4 linked regions of the Homo sapiens genome follow. The protein of the gene in region 1 purifies or fractionates together with the protein of each later gene. This does not show direct contact. Each region holds a gene or a part of one and is shown in the gene's direction. Other genes may lie near its edges.

Region 1 (3,500 bases):
GATCATTCCTCCTTCTCTCCCTGCTCAGATACACACTCTCTCTTTCACGTGCATACACACCCCTCTTTCTCCTCATAGGCAGTAGTTCTCTGCCTAGAAGACTGAATTCCACCTGAGGTCTCTAGATGGTTTTCTGTATATTCTTCTTCCTAACCTGCCCTCTCACTTCTCCAATCTTCCCTTGCAGGTGGTCACATCAACCCAGCTGTGTCTTTAGCAATGTGTCTCTTTGGACGGATGAAATGGTTCAAATTGCCATTTTATGTGGGAGCCCAGTTCTTGGGAGCCTTTGTGGGGGCTGCAACCGTCTTTGGCATTTACTATGGTGAGTAAAGTCCCTGAGTCCTAAGGTTAGGAAGAGCTGGGCATAATTTGAAAGTCAGAATTACTTGGTAGGCACAGGCGAGAAAAAGCAAGGACGGGAAGCATTCTACAAGTGACAGCAAGTTCTAAATTTGAGAAAATGAGGCCATATTACCATTCCAGCAAATTCGTGAATCCTGTTAATGAAAATGGTCATATCTTAAATGGGGAGCAGAACTTAAAGGAAGCCTGTCTTTGTGCCAAGCCAGCACTGCAACATACACATCCATACAACAAGCAGTAGGCCAGTGGCTTCCCCACTGCTGTCTCTGATTTGGCTGGGAAAAGAGGTGTTTTCTGGTGACAAAGGTGTGACCAGTAAGTATTGAGAGAAGGACTCTGGGAAGATGTCTTTGAAGGAAGAGACACAGCAGAGATGTGGGCTGGGTGGGAGCCTCATTGCCCTTCTATCAAACAGCCAGGGCTTCCACTCTGCAACAGTCCTTGGGAAAAACACAGTATTGGTCATAGAAGACCAGACTTTAGCTCTAGCTGTTCAGTAAATACCTGTGCAACTTAAATAAGTCATCTGATCTGACTAGCCTCAGTTTCCTCCTCTGGAAAATGAGGGAATTGAATCAGATGACTCTCGAGGCCTTTCAAACTAAAACACCTTGGTGTTCCCATGAAATCAACTGTTAAAGCAGCTCCTTCCTTCTAACCCAAGGTAAGCCTTAATACATTATGACTTACCCAAACTGAAGACCTTAGGAAGTAGAATTTATGAACCAGGCCTTATAGAAATGGGTCATGGAGGGCTGGGTGTGTGGTGGCTCATGCCTGTAATCCCAACACTTTGGGAGGCATAAGTGGGAGGATCGTTTGAGCCCAGTAGTTCAAGACCAGCCTGGGCAACATAGGGATACCTCGTCTCTTCAGAAAAAAAAATTAAAAATAAGCCAGGTGTGGTAACTCACATCTGTAGTCCCAGCTACTCAGGAGGCTGATAAGAGGATTGCTTCAGCCCAGATCAAGGCTGCAGTGAGCCAGGATCATGCCATTGCACTCCAGCCTGGGCAGCAGAGCAAGACCCTGTCTCCAAAGAAGAAAAAAAAGAAAAAAAAAAAGGAAAAGAAATAGGTTATGGAAAGGGACTTTTCCCCATAGAGTGTCTCTCTGAGAATTAGAGTCTAAAAGGGCTAAAATGGAATTCAAGAACACACAGGAAATTCAGAGCCCGCTGCTGTGGCAAGAATGGCCTGGGGTCAGTGCTAGCTGTGGCAGTGGCTGCAATACCCCTGGCTCTAAGGGCATCTTCAGTATACTGCAACACCCTCAAATTCTGGAGTGGTATTAGGGGTTACTGAGAGCCCTCTGGGAATTATAAATTATTCCTAGAGCAAGACCAAGCCCCACTTTGGCTTACAGTTGACCTCGAAAACTCCAAGAATTCCCCCAAAAGAGAACTCATTCCCAGGACCCTATCGAAGAATAATTTGTCCAAGTTTGCAGTGGGCCATTCAGAGAGGCCAAAGGCCTTCTTCCTTTGACCCTCCATCCTGGGATTCACCTGGGCATCTCTAAAACTATCATTCCTCGGAAGTAGAGAGAGACAAATGACATGGCTATGCCAAGCTCAATCTGAGTGACTGGTTGTTTAGCACAAGGCTTGGCACAGGCCTCCTTCAACTCTTCCCAGGGAACACTAATGTGCCAGAGCTTTCTCTTTCATAGATGGACTTATGTCCTTTGCTGGTGGAAAACTGCTGATCGTGGGAGAAAATGCAACAGCACACATTTTTGCAACATACCCAGCTCCGTATCTATCTCTGGCGAACGCATTTGCAGATCAAGTAAGTGTAGATTCAACAAAGACTTAACTTTGGTGAAAAGATATGCTCTCATAAGGGGAATGCATTGGAGAATTAGAGACCAATCAGAAAGGAGAGATTATATTTCCAAAGGCAGAGGTTGCTGGGCATAACCCAAGCTTTCTTGATAATCGTTTTACCTTTACAAGGAGCTGATACCACCAGAAAAGTTTTCTCCTTCCTCTTTAATACGTACACTTGTTTAACATTAGTTGAGATCCAGAAAAGAGTGAATGACTAAACATTTCAATCCCTGTAGACACAAATGGACTTCACTTCACTATTGACTCTTTTGAACAAGTGGTCTAAGTGTGGAGGCCACAAGAGAAGATATTTCTATTTCAAATCAAAGACTGTGAAGGGTGGTAGTTGAGCCTAGGGGATCATCAATCCTCTCTGTCTCACCATGTGCATAGGTTTATTTATTTAAACTCTCAAGGTGGCTAGAAGTATCTCTGCTTATTGACCTTTAAACAAGCTTCTAGCACCCAAGCATACTGTGGTGTAACCAATAGCACACCTATTTGGTCAGCTTATGGCAGGACTAACATTGTCAACTCAAAAGACTCTTCTTCCCTTACTGTGTCCCAAGAAGGCTGCTGGTTATCTTGGTCAGGGCAGTGGAAGGAAGGCTATATTTTTCAGTATCTCTAAGTTCTTCCTCTATGATCAGGACTTATACAGTGGAGCAGATCAGAATGGGCATGTGTATAAAATGGATCTTCCAGTTCATCAGCTATGCCCACCTCCATTCAATGTATGGATGAAAAACTATGCCCTCATGTCCTCAGCTTTTTTACTTTCCACTTTCATCAATAAATCAAACAGGCAACAAGTGTTCATTAAAAACTCACTATGTGCTTGGCCCTTTGTCTGGAGCTTGAAAGACTGACGAGTAAATGTGAGTTGTAAAGATCCAAGATGCAGAGTCTGAATGCTTGAATTAAAATAGCTGTTCTGCCTCCAACTTCCTGCGTGGCTTCAGCAAAGTACTGAACTTTTTGGGTCGCAAGTTATTCACTTGTAAAATGGGGATAATATGAGCCTTCATGAAGTTACTTATGAGGATAAAAAGAATAATATGAGAAAAACGCATTGTAAGCAGTATCTGCCCAGAAATTTTGAATCTAGTTGAAGAGCATTGAACAAGGAAACAATGCAAAATAAGATATAATTAGACAGAGCTGGGCACGGTGGTTCACATCTTACTCCCTGCATTTTGGGAGGCCAAGGTGGACAGGTCACTTGAGCCCAGGAGTTCACTACCAGCCTGGGCAACATGGCAAAACCCTGCCTCTACCAAAAATACAAAAATTAGCCATGCGT
Region 2 (3,500 bases), on another chromosome or scaffold:
GCTAGCTTATTTAAATTCAAGAACTTTTGCAACATGGTTTATTATGTTGATTTTTTGTTGTGTATGTCTAAACTTCCAATTCATCTGTGTCTTCTAAAGTGCACCAACATTGATCAGTTAGTGTGTGAGGGCAGAGGCCTTCATCATAGTAATTTAGTGATCAATAGTGTTTCTTAATAGGATGGGGCATTTTAGAGCTTTTTTTTTTTAAATGTTAACTGTGGTTTTAATAATTAGATTTCTTCTATGTGGCTCATGGTAACTGACCATGTGTTCATATTTTCTTCTAAACTTTTTAGGCGTACAAATCCATTTGGAGAATCTGGAGGAAGTACAAAATCTGAAACTGAAGGTAAGACAGATGTGCAGCATTCATATATTTTAGAACTGCTTCTCAGCAAACTGTGAATAATTTATTGTTTATATTTGCTCTGCTACTAAGCTCAGTTTTAATGCTATCTTTACTTCAGAATTTCCTCTACTTACTTATAGTACACTTGAAGCAACAGAACTTAATCTGACTTAAGATGTTGTGATTCATACAAAACGATAGACTCTCATACTTTTGACTTTATAGTCAAATTCAGTGCCTAAGATACCTTTCAAGCTTTTCCTAACAGCTGATGTTTCTCTTCTGGTACTGGAGCATAAATTTTGTTTTTCCGCCACTAACTATTTATTTGAATTCTAAACTTACAGAAATGCTGTAAGAACCACCAGTTGTTGTGTGTTTGTGTGTGTGTGTGTGTGTTGAGACAGGGCTCCCTATGTTGCCTAGGCTGGTCTCGAACTCCTGGGCTCAAGGGATCCTCCTGCCTTAGCCTCCCAAAGTGCTAGGATTACAGGTGTGAACCACCACGCCTGGCCTCAGAACTGCCAGTTGTTGAAGCATTACTTTTAGCTATTTGAATTTGAAACCCTAATTTTCCTATAACTTGGAATACTGTAGTTAGGAGTTATTTTGAAATGTCTCCCTTAGGCTGTTGAATTTTTCACTAGAAAACCTAAAAGGAGGCAGTGTATTTTATTCTTTTGGAAAAGAAATATGGCGAAAAAAATAAAATGTAAATTTATACAGTAAAAAAAAAATATGTAATACACCTTGTTCTATTATAGATTCTATTCTTCATCAGTTATTTATTGTCCGATTCCTTGGTTCAATGGAGGTGAAATCAGATGACCATCCAGATGTTGTTTATGAAACTATGCGCCAAATCTTAGCTGCCCGGGCCATCCATAACATCTTTCGTATGACAGAATCGCATTTATTAGTCACTTGTGACTGTTTAAAGTAAGTAAAACCCTCCCTTAAAAAACTGTAGAAAAAACATTTACATGATTTCAGCCTAATTAAAATTTGTTTTCCAATTTTTAAATTATTATTTTAGGTTAATTGATCCACAGACACAAGTTACAAGGCTCACGGTGAGTTCCACATGATTTAAGCTTTGTTTTAGGTCCCTTTGTATATATACACATCTTACAACTTGATAATAATCCTGATCCTGTATATTCAAGTGTGATAGTATCAGCTATGATTGGTCTTTGGCTGTTGTAGTTAAGTCTATGGCCATCTCCAAAAAGTTGTCATTGAACATTTTATGTAACTTAAAAGAATTAACACAATTCTTTTTGTAATTTTTTTAACACAGTTCTTTTTGACTTTGTAAAATGTGTTAATGACTAATAAAACAAATGTAATATTCAACAACCTTTTTCTGCTTGTTAATTCAAACCAAATATGACATTACTTGTTTCTGCATTACAAGTCTGTTAAAATAATTGGCTTTAATATATTAAAATATTTATATTTTTAGAACTTAGCATATGAGTTTGTCACAAGTGCTGCTGTAATGACTTGTAAGATCTCATGTTTGCTTCTGATGTTTTCTGTGGCAGTTTCCATTACCTTGTGTAGTTTTGTATGCTACACACCAGGAAAATAAGCGCCTTTTTGGATTTGTTCTTCGGACATCAAGCGGGAGAAGTGAAAGTAATCTGTCATCAGTCTGCTATATATTTGAGTCAAACAATGAGGGGGAAAAGGTACATGGCTTTTCAGAATATCTCTGTCATAACCACTTACTAATTGATTCTTACTAAGATTTAATAATAATTAAATTCTTACAAATTAAATTAGTTAGTAATTACTGATTGAATTCTTTACAATTTATACAAATTTATGAGGCACATGTGAATTTTGTTACATGTATAGAATGTACAGTAAGCAAGTCAGGGTATTTAGGGTGTCCATCATCCAAGTACAATACATTTTTGTGAAGTATAGTCACCCTACTCTGCTGTCAGATATTAAATATATTCTTTCTATCGTAATTTATGGTTGTACCCTTTAATCAGCTTTTCTTCATCCTCCCCCTTTCCTCATCACTCAGCCTTCCCAGTCTCTGTTGTCTGTCATTCCACACTCTGCCTCCACGTGATCAATTTTTTGGCTCCCACATACAAGTGAGAACATGTGATATTTGTCTTTTTGTGCCTGGCTTATTTCACGTAAGATAATGACTTCTAGTTCCATCCACGTTGTTGTGAATGACATGATTTCATTCTTTTTATGGCTGAATAGTACTCCATTGTGTATATGTACCACATTTTCTTTATTCATTTATCTGTTAATGAACATTTAGATTGACTTAATATCTTTGCTATTGTGAATAGTACTACAGTAAACATGTGAGTGCAGGTATCCTTTTGATACAGATTTCTTTAATTTTGGGTAGATACCCAGTAGTGGGATTGTTGGATCGAATGGTAGTTCTATTTTTAGTTTTTGTTGTTGTTGTTGTTTTTGAGACGGAGTTTCACTCTGTCGCCCAGGCTGGAATGCAGTGGTGCGATCTTGGCTCACTGCAACCTCTGCCTCCTGGGTTCACGCCATTCTCCTGCCTCAGCCTCCCGAGTAGCTGGGATTACAGGTGCCTGCCACCATGCCCGGCTAATTTTTTGTATTTTTAGTAGAGACGGGGTTTCACCGTGTTAGCCAGGATAGTCTTGATCTCCTGACCTCGTGATCTGCCTGCCTCAGCCTCCCAAAGTGCTGGGATTACAGGCGTGAGCCACCATACCCGGTCTATTTTTAGTTTTTTGAGAGATCTCCATACTGTTTTCCATAGTGGTTGTACTAGTTTATGTTCCCACCAACAGTGTATGAGTTCCCCTTTTTTCTGCATTTCACCAACATCTGCTATTTTTTGTCTTTTTAGTGATAGCCATTCTGACTAGGGTAAGAATGGCTCATTGTCATTTTGATTTGCATTTCTCTAATGATTAGTAATGTCGAGCATCTTTTCATATACCTGTTGGCTGTTTTTGTGTCCTTTAAGAAATGCATATTCATATCCTCTGCATACTTTTAAGTGGGATTATTTGATTTTTTCCCTGTTGAGTTCGTTGTATATTCTGGATATTAGTCCCCAGTTGGATGAACAGTTTGCAAATAATTTCTCCCATTCAACAGGTTGTCTGTTTACTCTGTTATTTCT
Region 3 (3,500 bases), on another chromosome or scaffold:
CGTCCTAATATAGTCAACAGCTCCAAATCCCCTGCCCTGACACCTGTTAGCGAGAGGTTCCCTGAGCTGACCTCTCCTTGGGCTGCCCCCCCAGCATGTGCATCTGACGCGTCGAGGGCCAGACCCCCACCCTCTCCGAATCACACGCATCCTGGTCAGCCCCCAGTTGACAAATTGCCTTCTCTCGACTTGGGCAGGGGCTGCTGGGGTTTTGAGGGGCGGGGTTTGTTCAGCTGTTGCTAGGGAAGGGTGAGGCTGAGCTATCCCAAAGGAAATGGGGTGTTCCTCTGGCAAGTGGCAATCTTGGCAAAGAACTGAGCATCTGGGGAGGGGGCAACTCCGGACACAAAGAAGTCCTGGGGAGGGCCGACCTTTCCCCTTAGGATGGGGGAAATGAAATGCGCTTAATGCTGCTACAGCTGCTTCCTAACTTTGCCTCTTTCTTCCTTTGACTTTTGGAGGAGTGGGGTGGAAAAGAGATGGGGGTTCCCAGGCAGCCAGCTGTTTTCCCCACTGACCCATGCTCCAATTCCCACTGCCCTGGCTCAGTAGCCTCCAGTAAGTGATGCCCAGGATGGTGCGGCTCCGTGTGGCCAGCGTAATTCCCTTTGTCTCTCCCCTCCTCCCCTCTCCCTGTCTTCCTCTCTCGCCCCTTGGCTTCCCTTCCCGGCCCCGTGGTGGCTGCAGCCCAGCCCTGGGGAGCCCCTGTGGAAGTGGAGTCCTTCCTGGTCCACCCCGGTGACCTGCTGCAGCTTCGCTGTCGGCTGCGGGACGATGTGCAGAGCATCAACTGGCTGCGGGACGGGGTGCAGCTGGCGGAAAGCAACCGCACCCGCATCACAGGGGAGGAGGTGGAGGTGCAGGACTCCGTGCCCGCAGACTCCGGCCTCTATGCTTGCGTAACCAGCAGCCCCTCGGGCAGTGACACCACCTACTTCTCCGTCAATGTTTCAGGTTGGTAGCCAAGCCCTGCCCTTGCCCCTCCCTAGACCCACCCCCTCCAGCCCTCTCTGCCAGTTTCAGAGGAAGGTGAACCTCCTCCCCCTCCGTGATCTGCCCCCACTCTGCTTCAGAAACTGCTGCCCACTAACATTGCTCCCTGCCTGCCGCGTGGCTTGGCTCTCAGAGAGGTGACTAGGTGGGGTGGGCCCCAGGGCCGGAGATCTGGGGCTTCCAGGACACACCTCGGAGGTGATTGCCAGGGCTCTTGGGATGTTAAGACCCTGTGATTTTTTTCCACCACAGCTTGCCCAGATCTCCAGGAGGCTAAGTGGTGCTCGGCCAGCTTCCACTCCATCACTCCCTTGCCATTTGGACTTGGTACTCGGCTTAGTGATTAGAGGCCCTGAACAGGTGGTGGTATCCCTGCTCTGCTGGAGAGGAACCCAGGTGCACCGCAAGGGAGCTGTGCGAGGGCAGCCAGGGAGCCCTGGAGCTCTGTGAACTTGGGAACTTGCCACTCTTAGAATGTGACTTTCACAAAACTAGGAGTTGAGGAAGTGGAGCTGAAATTTTCTTTATGCCATTTATGCACCTCAGGGTGTGGACTTGGCAGCAGATCCCCAAAGGTGATAGGAAGGACTGGAGAAAGATCTGGCATGAACCCTGATGGGTGACCACATGTGTATCAAGCGTGTTCTTACAAGAAATAAATACTTATTGGGGAGAGGTGTTGGCAGCTGCTGGGGTGGTGGGTGCCCTATCTGCTCTGATTAAGGAGGGCAGCCCCCAAACCTTAGTAGACACATGCTAGAAAAATTCTGACTGTGGGGTGTTTAGCCCATCCTTTGGAAATAGCATCTAGCCACAGTGTGTCTAGACCTGCCTGGGTTTCCCTATAGTCAGCCGTCCAAAGAAGAATACAGGTTGCCTGGCTCCAGCACACCCAGGTGGCACCACAAGTTGAGAAAGCGCCTTTGAATGTAGGACGGAATTAAGTTAAATAGGAACAGCTGACCCTGATGGAACCACCCAGTGTGAAGGCTTCCAGGCAGTGGGGGCAGTGCTTCGGGGAAGGAAGCAAACACGCACAGGAACTGTTCTTAAACAGTTTCCATCCCACCAAGAGATCATCACTAAGGGAGCAGTGGGACTGGGATCCCCATGGGGAGGGTGTCCGTGTTCATCTGGAACTGCACTAGCCTTGGTGAAATCTAGGGGTCCCTAGGAGGAACCTCAGTGCCCCTTCTTCTTCCCATAGATGCTCTCCCCTCCTCGGAGGATGATGATGATGATGATGACTCCTCTTCAGAGGAGAAAGAAACAGATAACACCAAACCAAACCGTATGCGTGAGACACTGTTTCCTATCTTACTGCCCTTTGGGTCTGGGCATTGGGTTTAAGAGGGGAGGGGAAGGCTGAAAGGGGAGGAAGAGGAGGGCACATGGGGTCACGGTGCCTGTTCTGCTAAGTGCCAGGCACTGCTCACAGGTGTTGGGCAGATGGGCAAGACACCTCCAGGTCCTGGCCTGGGCCCTGCTCCTGAGCCTGACCAGCTGCTCCTCTCCACCCTGCCTGTCTCTCTTGGCTTTCCCCGGGCAGCCGTAGCTCCATATTGGACATCCCCAGAAAAGATGGAAAAGAAATTGCATGCAGTGCCGGCTGCCAAGACAGTGAAGTTCAAATGCCCTTCCAGTGGGACCCCAAACCCCACACTGCGCTGGTTGAAAAATGGCAAAGAATTCAAACCTGACCACAGAATTGGAGGCTACAAGGTACGTGTGTGTGCATGCGAAAGTTAGAGTAATGGGAACAGGGGAGGCCGAGTTAGGAAGTCCTGATTACATGCTTTTCATTTTTTTAAGTAATACTTTCCACCTATACAGGTTATTCATTAAAATTTTTAAATACAAAAAAATGCAAATAAAGTTTAAACATTTCTTCAGTCTTCTTTCTGTAATATGGTTTTTACATAGTTGATCACATCATGTATGTAATTTCCTTGCCTTGTCATTTGTTAACATGAGTCTTTTCCTGATATATTTCAAGCATGAATATTTGAAACATAATTTTTCATGACTGTATAAGATTCCATTATTTTAAAATCCCATAATTTGGCTGGGCATGGTGGCTCACGCCTAAAATCCTATCACTTTGGGAGGCCGAGGTGGGCGGATTGCCTGAGCTCAGGAGTTCGAGACCAGCCTGGGCAACATGGCGAAACCTCCTCTGTACTAAAAATACAAAAAATTAGCCATGTGTGGTGGCAGGCTCCTGTAATCCCAGCTACTGGGGAGGCTGAAGCAGGAGATTGCTTGAACCCAGGAGACAGAGGTTGCAGTGAGCTGAGATCACGTCATTTCACTCTAGCCTGGGTGACAGAGTGAGACTCTGTCTCCAAAAAACAACAGAAAAAGTCCTATAATTTAATGAACTATTTTGTGATATTAGGTATTTTCTGGTTTTTCACCATAATAAATAATGTTGCAGTGAATCTCTGTCAGCATTTTTTTAAGCGTGCTTCCTTAGGACAGATTGTTACAAGTGAAATTACTAACTT
Region 4 (2,968 bases), on another chromosome or scaffold:
ATGGGTTTACACTGTGTGCTTAATTAAAAGATAAATAATTGAAATAATCAGGCAGTTTCACTGGCTGTTGTACCCAGTGGGTGTATGCCTAAGATTGGGACAATATAAGAAGTATAAACTGTTGTTCCAGTATCTGTTCTCATATGCCTCTCAAAAGTAAACATCTCACCAGGCTTGAGTGCGTTTCTCCTGTTGAAGATAACTTTTCATAGCTTCATACCTCAAACACAAGCCAGCCACTCCCACTGACACTCATTCCAATGATGGAAGAAAAGCCAGCTGTGTTGGACTTGAGGGGTGGTGTATTAATCTCTAACATAGTGCTTTTCTAATGAACGATGAAGGATAATTTTGACTGGACTGAGTTTCACAATATATTATACACTGACTTCAGAACCTAACTCTCCCCCCCACACCCCCGCCAAGAAGAAGTCTTGCTGTGTCGCCCAGGCTGGAATGCAGTGGCGTGATCTTGGCTCACTGCAACCTCCGCCTCCCAGGTTCAAGTGATTCTCCTGCCTCAGTCTCCCAAGTAGCTGGGATTACAGGCATGTGCCACCACACCCAGCTCATTTTTGTATTTTCTGTAGAGACAGGGTTTCACCATGTCCAGGCTGGTCTTGAACTCCTGACCTCGTGATCCACACCCCTTGGCCTCCCAAAGTGCTGGGATTACAGGCGTGAGCCACCGCGTCCAGCCCTGAACCTCACTCTTTATATGAAAGATAGGAATGCTACTATACAGTTTTGTTAAATGAATGATCTGTCCTTTTTCTGCGTTTCTGTAATACTTTATTATTCAAATGACATTTTTGCTGCTTATTTCATAGCTGTTTACTTTTGTCTTATCCCACCAGTTAAAAAAACAGGAATCATGTCTTTATACCTCTTTGTATTTGGTATATTGCTTTTTATATAATACTCGTTTATAGAATGAATAGACATTTTATTTTATTATTTATTTATTTATTTATTTAAAGACAGAGTCTCGCCCTGTTGCCCGGGCTGGAGTGCAGTGGCGTGATCTCAGCTCCCTGCAGCCTCCACTTCCTGAGCTGAAGCAGTCCTCCAGGTTCAGCCTCTCCAGTACCTAGGACTATAGGCGTGTGCCACCACGCCTGGCTAATTTTTGTGTTTTTTTTTGTAGAGACAGAGTTTCACCATGTTGCCCAAGCTGGTCTCAAACTCCTGACCTCAAGTGATCTGCCCACCTCGGGTGGGTCCCAAAGTGCTGGGATTACAGGTGTGAGCCACTGCGCCCAGCATTAGACAGCTCACTGTACAGTGATCATAAACCTCAGTACCCTTTGCTAAATGTTCCCTCTCAGTTATCACTTTTCTCTCTTTCCCACAGCTCTTTCGACGTGTAGCAGCAGCTTTGCCGGGAATGGAAAGCACACAGGACAGAAGCAGAGAAGATAGTATCCTTTTTATTTCATTGGAAATTTTTCATTATTAACACTAGTCTTTAGAGCCCTGCTTGCTTGGCTAAAGAATATTGTGCCATTGCCTTTTACAACCAGGAACTGATGACTTAAAGGCATAGAAATTCATTTGTTTTCTATAGCAAATGAGGTCTGGTTATCCAAGTGCACCCTTTGCAGCCTGCTTCTCGTTGTTAATCAGTGAGAGGTTTTGTGTTTGTTTGCTTGCTTTTAAATGAGCAGGAAACTCTTAGAATCCCTGTGTCCTTGCCTCTTCATTTTGAGTCCCATTGACTCTAGGCTTTTTCCTCATGGAATATCAAATTTTCATTTCTTTTTCTAACACTTGAGCTTTCTACTTGACACAGGCAAGAAATAGAGTGGAGCTTTATTGTAGCCTCTGCTTTCAGAAACAGGACATAATATTAGTTCATTTCCAAGGATTGGGACATCTAATATTAGTTAATTCTAAGGATTTTTAATTTGATGTTTTCAGTGTTTCATATTCACCTTCTAGTGTATTTCCATATGCAGGCATTTTTATTAAGCCATATAGTTTGTAGCACTTTGTATTCAGCTCTTCCCACTTGTAAATGTTATATGTTTTCATAAAAAACATAAAACAGGCCGGGCGCGGTGGCTTATGCCTGTAATCCCAGCACTTTGGGAGGCCAAGGCAGGTGGATCACCTGAGGTCGGGAGTTCAAGACCAGCCTGACCAACATGGAGAAACCTTGTCTCTACTAAAAATAAAAAAATTACCTGGGCGTGATAGTGCACGCCTGTAATCCCAGCTACTAAGGAGGTTGAGGCAGGAGAATTGCTTGAACCCAGGAGGCAGAGGTTGCAGTGAGCCGAGATCACGCCATTGCACTCCAGCCTGGGCAACAGGATCGAAACTCCATTCCCCCCCCAAAAAAAAAAACACAACAACAACATAAAACATAATATGTTTCAAAAACAAAACAACAACAACAACAAAAAATGTTCTATTGAGTTGAAGTATGTCCCCGCGCCCACCGCCGTTTTTTTTTGAGATGGAGTCTCATTCTGTCGCCCAGGCTGGAGTGCAGCAGCGCAATCTCAGCTCACCACAACCTCTGCCTCCTGAATTCAAGTGATTCTCCTGCCTCAGCCTCCCAAGTAGCTGGGAATACAGGCATGAGCCACCATGCCCAGCTAATTTTTATATTTTTAGTAGAGATGGGGTTTCGCCATGTTGGCCAGGCTGGTCTTGAACTCCTGACCTCAGGTGTTCGGCCTGCCTCAACCTCCCAAAGTGTTGGGATTACAGGCATGAGCCACGGCACCCGGCCTGAAGTCCCATTATTTACTAAATGTTTCCTCTGCTGTTGGAACTATCTTGTAGGCTATTTTCAGATTTATATTATAGATGATTCTATGAGGAACATCATCTTCATATCACTTCTTGCCACTGTAGAATAAGTTCCTTAGGATAGATACCCATAAATAGAGCTTGTACCTCATTCTGACCCTTGTTGCATATAGTAGATATAAACAAGTTTATTCCATTTGAGCACCTT

What was found. Proteins that work in one complex are often made in the same cells at the same time.
Region 2: the proteins of AQP9 (region 1) and APPL1 purify together in Homo sapiens (affinity purification with mass spectrometry; one large-scale study listed by BioGRID and IntAct). This does not show direct contact.
Region 3: the proteins of AQP9 (region 1) and FGFR1 purify together in Homo sapiens (affinity purification with mass spectrometry; one large-scale study listed by BioGRID and IntAct). This does not show direct contact.
Region 4: the proteins of AQP9 (region 1) and RAB6A purify together in Homo sapiens (affinity purification with mass spectrometry; one large-scale study listed by BioGRID and IntAct). This does not show direct contact.

What each region holds. Positions count from the first base shown.
Region 1 is NC_000015.10:58,172,881-58,176,380, forward strand, and holds part of AQP9 (aquaporin-9), read left to right. Parts: intron 1-187; coding exon 188-325; intron 326-2,037; coding exon 2,038-2,156; intron 2,157-3,500. UniProt on the Homo sapiens protein: Aquaglyceroporins form homotetrameric transmembrane channels, with each monomer independently mediating glycerol and water transport across the plasma membrane along their osmotic gradient.
Region 2 is NC_000003.12:57,258,729-57,262,228, forward strand, and holds part of APPL1 (DCC-interacting protein 13-alpha), read left to right. Parts: intron 1-299; coding exon 300-352; intron 353-1,116; coding exon 1,117-1,291; intron 1,292-1,388; coding exon 1,389-1,425; intron 1,426-1,899; coding exon 1,900-2,046; intron 2,047-3,500. UniProt on the Homo sapiens protein: Multifunctional adapter protein that binds to various membrane receptors, nuclear factors and signaling proteins to regulate many processes, such as cell proliferation, immune response, endosomal trafficking and cell metabolism.
Region 3 is NC_000008.11:38,427,136-38,430,635, reverse strand, and holds part of FGFR1 (fibroblast growth factor receptor 1 isoform 1 precursor), read left to right. Parts: intron 1-687; coding exon 688-954; intron 955-2,200; coding exon 2,201-2,290; intron 2,291-2,542; coding exon 2,543-2,715; intron 2,716-3,500. UniProt on the Homo sapiens protein: Tyrosine-protein kinase that acts as a cell-surface receptor for fibroblast growth factors and plays an essential role in the regulation of embryonic development, cell proliferation, differentiation and migration.
Region 4 is NC_000011.10:73,678,107-73,681,074, reverse strand, and holds part of RAB6A (ras-related protein Rab-6A), read left to right. Parts: intron 1-1,354; coding exon 1,355-1,421; intron 1,422-2,968. UniProt on the Homo sapiens protein: The small GTPases Rab are key regulators of intracellular membrane trafficking, from the formation of transport vesicles to their fusion with membranes.